2 linked regions of the Homo sapiens genome follow. The protein of the gene in region 1 interacts with the protein of each later gene in a pairwise test. Each region holds a gene or a part of one and is shown on either strand. Other genes may lie near its edges.

The links. The genes of interacting proteins can lie anywhere in the genome.
Region 2: the proteins of FAM13A (region 1) and FLNB interact in a two-hybrid assay, tested with the Homo sapiens proteins (one study listed by IntAct).

The regions. Positions count from the first base shown.
Region 1 is NC_000004.12:89,055,297-89,059,049, reverse strand, and holds the start of FAM13A (protein FAM13A), read left to right. Parts: upstream 1-1,864; 5' UTR 1,865-2,085; coding exon 2,086-2,112; intron 2,113-3,753.
Region 2 is NC_000003.12:58,165,372-58,169,124, reverse strand, and holds part of FLNB (filamin-B), read right to left. Parts: exon of another isoform or gene 3,010-3,753; intron 686-3,009; coding exon 467-685; intron 1-466. UniProt on the Homo sapiens protein: Connects cell membrane constituents to the actin cytoskeleton. May promote orthogonal branching of actin filaments and links actin filaments to membrane glycoproteins. Anchors various transmembrane proteins to the actin cytoskeleton.

The DNA of each region.
Region 1 (3,753 bases):
CTGACAAAAAACAAGCAATGGGAAAATGATCTCCCATTCAGTAAATGGTCCTGGGAAAACTGGCTAGTTATATGCAAAAAACTGAAACTGGACCCCTTCCTTAGACCTTATACAAAAATTATCTCAAGATGGATTAAAGACTTAAATGTAAAACCCAAAACTATAAAAACCCTAGAAGAAAACCTAGGCAATACCATTCAGGGCATAGGCATGGGCAGAGACAAAAATGCCAAAAGCAATGGCAACAGAAGCCAAAATTGACAAATGGGATCTAATTAAACTAAAGAGCTTTTGCACAGCAAAAGAAACTATCATCAGAGTGAACAAGCAGCCTACAGAATGGGAGAAAATATTTGCAAACTATGCATCTGACAAAGGTCTCATATCCAGAATCCATAAGGAACTTAAACAAATTTACAGGAAAAAGACAAACTACCCCATCAAAAAGTGGGCAAAGGATATGAACAGACACTTCTCAAAAGAAGACATTTATGTAGCCAACAAACCTATGAAGAAAAGCTCACCATCACTGATCATCAGAGAAATGCAAATCAAAACCACAATGAGATACTATCTCGAGCCAGTTAGAATGGCAATTATTGAGAAGTCAGGAAACAACAGATGCTAGAGAGGATGTGGAGAAATAGGAACGCTTTTACACTGTCCGTGGGAATGTAATTAGTTCAACCATTGTGGAAGACAGTATGGAGATTCCTCAAGGATCTAGAACCAGAAATACCATTTGACCCAGCAGTCCCATTACTGGGTATATACCCAAAGGAGTATAAATCATTCTGCTATAAAGACACATACACACATATGTTTATCGCAGCACTGTTTACAATAGCAAAGACATGGAACCCACTCAAATGCCCATCAATGATAGACTGGATAAAGAAAATGTGGTACATATACACCATGGAATACTATGCAGCCATAATAAGGAACAAGATCATGTCTTTTGCATGGACATGTATGAAGCTAGAAGCCGTCATCCTCAGCAAACTACCACAGGAACAGAAAACCAGACACCACATGTTCTCACTCATAAGTGGGAGTTGAACATTGAGAACACATGGACACAAAGGGGAAACAACACACATCAGGGCCTGTTGGGAGGTTGGGGGTGAGGGGAGAGAACTTAGAGGATGGGTCAATAGGTACAGCAAAAGAAAAAAGAAAAACAAATTGACAGAAAAAATGGTAACAAAAATAAAAATAGGATAGTTTCCTTTTGGCTTACCTGAAGTGGCTATTTTAGCTATTAGTTCAAATATTTGTAAATTTTAAAATCTATCAAATTTTCTAGTGACAGCATGTGGAAGAGAAAGTTATTGAAAAGTCAGTTAGCTAATTTTTCAGACTGCAAATCACATATGTAGAATTATGGTTGTCTAGAAGTATGTTGTTTATGTTTATCATCAGTATATTTTTATAAGACAACTCATACATAATTAGAAGTAGTAACGGCTACATAAAATAGAGCATTTTCATTTAAAACAATTCTGATGGGGTAGCATGGAAGGAAGAAAATTTTGGTAGAATTTAGCTGGTTTCTAAGGAAGAGTAGAAGAGAAAACTGCCTCAGAAAAAATGAATAATGTGCCTGCAGTTTTAAACCTGAGTCTGAATACGTACATTTTGCTTAGAGCTGTGTGGAATCTGGGAAGCAAGTCTGTGTTTTCACTTTATGCACTGTTGGTTCTATTAATGAAAGCCACCAGGTGACTGGCAGTTTTCGGAGTCAAAGAAGCCTGTGTGTAGGATCTAGGGAGTCAGGTTTGAAAAAAAGATGTCAGCGACTTAAGACCCGTGTCACGTGACTCCCTCTACTTGCCAGCACTGAGGCTGTGGATCAAATTTCAACTCCAGGCAGTCCTTCCAGCCATGTGGGTTCAGCGGAAAGAGAAGCAAAACCACTCTTCCTAAAATGTTAGAAGCTGCTCTTCGCTTACCTTGGGGCCTTTGCATTGGGAGCTGTTTTTCACATCAAAGAATATGTGCTGAATGGAATTTTAGTATTTTGCTGTCGTTTTAATATTTTCGTCTGGTCTTCCTCAGTTCTTCCAGACGCTTTCTGAGAGAATGGGGGCAGGAGCTCTAGCCATCTGTGTAAGTATAGGCCTTCTTCTGTCTTCTGTGTTTACTGCCAGTTTTTAGGAGAGGGCCTTGCCTTCCTTGTTTTGATGAGATGTTTGTGTAACTTATTTTTCCTTCCCAGGAGGTGGGGAAAGATTTGTTACTTAAATTCCTATCTACTTAAATGGGTATTAGGCAGGATTTGGGATGGCATTCAGCATATTTGTGCACTTTAGTTTCCAAAAAAGGTGAAAGATGCATGCTGATTTATTCCGTTAAGTCAACTTGATTTAAAGTAGAGCACTTTCAAGCATTTTAGACTTTCTTGTCCCTGAATAGTTAAACATGAATGCTTCATTATAGCTATTAGAGAAATCTTGTGGCTAGCTTGAGGAGGAATTGAAGTAACCATTAATTTATTACTTTTGAGTATGTGTGTGACATTTTTCTGTTTTATATTTCTATTTTCGTTTAGTAATTCTGGAGTTTCTGTTTCAGCATGATTGCTGAAAGTGATGGTGGAGAAGCTCAGTTGATAAATGTTTGTGTATCCTTAAACTGTAGAAATGAATGGTTGTTATAACACAGTAGCATTAATAAATAACACTGAAATAAAATCCTTGGGAAAATGTGCATATTTCTGGAGTTTTAGAATTTTTAGAATTTATGAATTTCTAAATTATTCTGCTGGTGCTTGTACAAAACCTTTTGTAATAATCAAAAATTGTCAATTATATAATTTGCAGAATGCTGTAATTTAAATTTTGATTGTACTATATAGAAAATGCATATATCTGTATGAGAATTACACATATTTATGTTTCAAGTTGCTATTGTATTCCATAGGGACATTTTATTTTCTAGAATGTATTAAATGAGAAATATCTTCTTCCTTATTATCACCTTAACTGCTCACTTAAAAAATCACACTCAGGCCAGATCCTCTTTTTTTGTGTGTGTTTCAGAAAGAGCTGCAATTTGCTGTAGCTTCTGATGGCATTCTGAAGTGTTTAGAAATATCTGAGCAATTTTTGACACACAGACACCAAATGGTCACCAAATGGTCACCAAATGGTAGACCAGCCCTATAGATTAAGTTTTCTTAGTGAAACTGCAGGATGACCTTGTTTCCAGGCTCAAAACTTTTCAGCACCATGTATGTCACTCTGTCTTCCTTTTAACTCTGAGGCTTAGTAGCATCCAGGTATCCATGTGGTTATTCTTTTTTTATCACCCCAAAGAGTTTCCTTCAAAATCTGATTTATCTATGTGTAAAATACTGACTTTTACTTTACTGCAGAGGTGGCCCTTCTATTTTTCTAGCTTTATAAAAGAAACAATACAGAACTGAAAATGTGTAGAATGAGGCAGCAGATAGGTCATGAAGATTGGTAGTCATCTCTGATTGTCTGATTAGATCTTTACTTCTTTCCCTTGACCTGCAATATATTGATCTCTACCTTGACTGGAATGCACACTGACTCATGTATAAAACTTTATATTTTCCCTTAATTTATATCCAAAGCATGTATAAAATTTCAGTTAAAGTTGACATAAAAATCACACAGTGTAAGAGATTATTCACTCTGGTAGATGAGTAATTCTCAATCATTTCTACCCTTCTCCTTAAGGTTGGCCTTTGATTGTGCTGTCTTGGTTTTACTGTAGGAGGAA
Region 2 (3,753 bases), on another chromosome or scaffold:
CATGACGTGTGGAAGGGATTTACTACAGTGTTTATGGTGGTTACCTTGGGTGGTGGCTGTGAAGTGGTTTTCATAGTTTGGTATTTTTTCCAGTGTTTTGGAGGAGACACATTTTTATAAGTATAGGAAAACTTTTTGATTATTTTTCAAGTGAAAATTAGAAATCAGGGGATTTTTCAGACCCTGATCTAAACAAATACGTAAGATTTCAATATGTATTCTTTCCTGTTAGAGATAGAAAACCACCTAACATCCTAACATGCTTTCTCAACTTCTGCACGGCTCCACTCTGTGGACTTTTGTAAGTTTCAAACACTGCCCTCTGACATCTCATACTATTTACTGACATTCAAAGTTCAAAGTAGCTTTAACACATCTAAAACCATCCATAGTTTCCACTATGATTGATCTGACACAACCAGCTCCCCAGGAAGGGAGAGTAACTCCGAAGGTGGTTGTTCGTTACCTGTCACCTTGGCCTTGAAGGGACTGCCCACGATGTGGTTGGGCCCACCGTATTTGACGCTGATCAGGTAGTTACCAGGAGCCATGGGGGTGTACATGACTTTGTACCCTTCAGGTGTTTCCTGGCAATCCATTTTAACCTTGGATGGGCCTTCGATGGTGACGGATAATGTCCCTGGACCTGCTCGGGTGGTGTTAATAAAGAATTCCGACTGGATACCTGGGAGAAAGGAATAGAAAATGCTGTGTTGATGACTTGGAGGGCTTTCCTGGGAGCACTGAGGCCGTGGTGAGGGACACACATAGATCCCCTTACAGAGGGCTCACCCTGGTGGCATGGGAACCCACTGGCACTAGCTCTGAACTTCTGGCAGAGAGAACCTCAGGCCCTGCGGGGTGGGGGCTCCCTTTTCTAGGCCAAGGCAGGAGGAGCATGGCTGACATTTCGCCCACAAGCACCAACAGCCTGGACACCCTGTTCTCTCCTCTGGGCATGAGCCATTGTGGCTGAGGGCAAGAAGCCTGAGTCACACTGTGAGCCTGAAGTGCTGCTTCAGCCACCAGAGTCCAGCTCTCCCTCCAGGGGTGTGGGGGAGGCGTGGGCCCCTCTGACTGTCCTTTCTTCTCCGGGTAGACTTGGAGAAGCCAGGGAGGCCAAGCATCTCCTCCCTTCCTCCTCAGCCCTCACCCCAGGCACTGTGCTGCAGACCGGGTGCAGCCACTGTGACCTGCCAGCCCACCCACTTTGCCGTGAATTCCAGCAACAAGCACAGGAACAGAACAGCAGCTCCCGCTGACGGGGCATGCGTACCCCACTCCGGCTCCAGGTCCTGTGCACAGCACCATTTACGCATGTGGTATGGAATCCTTTCCGTGATTCCTGCTTCACAAATGACTCTGCGGCTCAGGGAGGGGGCCAGTCACGCTACACAACCAGAAAGTGGTAGAGCCGGGTTTGAACCATGTCTGCATGGCTCTGGTGCCAGGCTCATCTCTTGACCCCTGGATGGGCAGTGGAGCTGCCTCAGATCCCCTAACTGCAGCCCTGAGACAACTTAGCTGGCCCAGGGAGAGCCTCCTTCAGTCATCAGGTCTGGCGCATGCCTGCTACAGTGCCCTCTATGGGGCATGCCTGGCATAGCATCCCCATGCAGGGCTATGCTTCTGCCAGAGCCCTAGACACTGCCCCAGCTGGGAAATATTTTGGTTTAATTATAGCTCCTAGTCCAGAGAAAGAATTATTGTTCTGGATATCAATAAAAACAAAAGAGCTGCTATCGTGCAACTCTCAAACACAACCCAGCTGTTCCTGGAAGCTCTTGAGGCTCCTGCCCCAAGGTCCACCCCCAACACTATCTCAACCTCATCATGGTATCTAATCTGTGCAGCCAAGAAGCCCCTCAAGCAGCAGCTCTGAGGCCTGGGGCTACGTAGGGAAGAAGCGGGAGGTGAGCAACAAGGAGACAGTGTGTCCATCCAGGAAGCAGCTGTAAGGTGATGATAAGGAAAGATATTTTATTGATTGATTGATTGAGATAGAGTCTCGCTCTGTTGCCCAGGCTGGAGTGCAGTACCATGATCTTGGCTTATTGCAACCTCCGCCTCCCAGGTTCAAGCGATTCTCCTGCTTCAGCTTCCTGATTAGCTGGGATTACAGGCACTCGCCACCATGCCCAGCTAATTTTTGTATTTCTTTAGTAGAGATGGGGTCTCACCATGTTGGCCAGGCTGGTCTTGAGCTCCTGACCTCAAGTGATCTGCCCACCTTGGTCTCCCAAAGTGCTAGGATTACAGGCATGAGCCAACGCACCCGGCCTTATTACTAATATTTTTTTTTTTAGATAAAGTCTTCCTCTGTTGCCCAGGCTGGAGTACGGTGGCATGATCACAGCTCACCACAGCGTCAATCTTCCAGGCTCAAGCCATCCTCCTGCCTCAGCCTCCAAAGTAGCTGGGACTTCAGGCATGCACCACCACGCCTGGCTAATTTTTAAATTTTTTTGTAGAGATGGGGTTTTGCTGTGTTGCCTGGGCTGGTCTCAAACTCCTAGGCTCAAGTGATCCTCCCACCTCCACCTCCCAAAGTGCTGGGATTACAGGTGTGAGCCACTGTGCCAGGCCAAAAAGATATTTTTAAAGTGAAGTTGAAATGATGTGGCTGCAGGGGAAAGTTCCACCATTTTTTAACAAGCTGTTTCATTCCTAAGTTCGTCTTTAAAAATTTTTTTTTTTGGTAGAGATGGAGTTTTACTATGTCACCCAGGCTGGTCTCAAACTCTTGGCCTCAAACAATCTTTCTGCCTTGGCCTTCCAAAGTGCTTTGATTACAGGCATGAGCCACCGCACCCATTTGGCCCTAATGCAATATTTTGACCAACCAAAAATCAGTTCATCTTGACTGTGAGGGCCCAAAAGGGCAGGGAAGACGAGGTGGGAAAAGAGAAAGCAGGGGTTATGGGACAAGAGCTACTACTTGGCTGTTACCTCCTCTACAGCTCCAAACAAGCCTATTAGGTGGGTCCTGTTATTAATCCTGTTTTACAGGAAAGGAAGCAGAGGCACAGTGAAGTCAGATAATTCATCTGGAGTCACACAGCTGGGGACCAGCAGAACTGGGATTTAAACATAAAGTCTGTCCAACTTGGAGCTAAAGCACTTACCTGAGAGAAGATGGAAGGAAAAAAATCCACAAGCAGAAGTCTCTCACCACTGCCTCTAGCTATAACCTGTATCTGACACCACAAAACATCTCTGGGCGTGGCGGTCTTCCCCCACCCCCTCAAATATGTCCAGCTCAGTTCCTGTGAGTTTAATGCATGTTAAACGCAGCACTGCTTGTTCTTCAAGGCAGTTAAGGAAGGAGGCCCTTCTGGTATACCCCGAGCACACTGGGGTTCCTGGACCATTTCATTAGGAAAATTGCTCAGCGGCTCCAAAGAATCTGGAGCTCCCTGGTCTATCTCCCAGCCTCTCAAGCCGCCTCCAGCAGGGTCCCGCCCCAAATTCTCCACATTCCCCTACTCCAAAATCTACAGAATGGACCATTTAAAGCTTGAGCCAAGAGATACAGCAAACTCACCCATTAAAAACAGAGGGAGGTTTGCTTTGTTCAGAAGGTCAGGATACTGGGCGCTCTGGCGGCCAAGCACAGATACCTTTTCATTCCATGCACACTGCAGCTGTGTAATCTCAGAATGGATATTTAGGGAAAGGCTTGGGAGCAGGAGGGCTGGAAAAACAAGGCGCCTTCCCTGTGACAAGAGCAATATTTACACAGGGTTTGAAGCA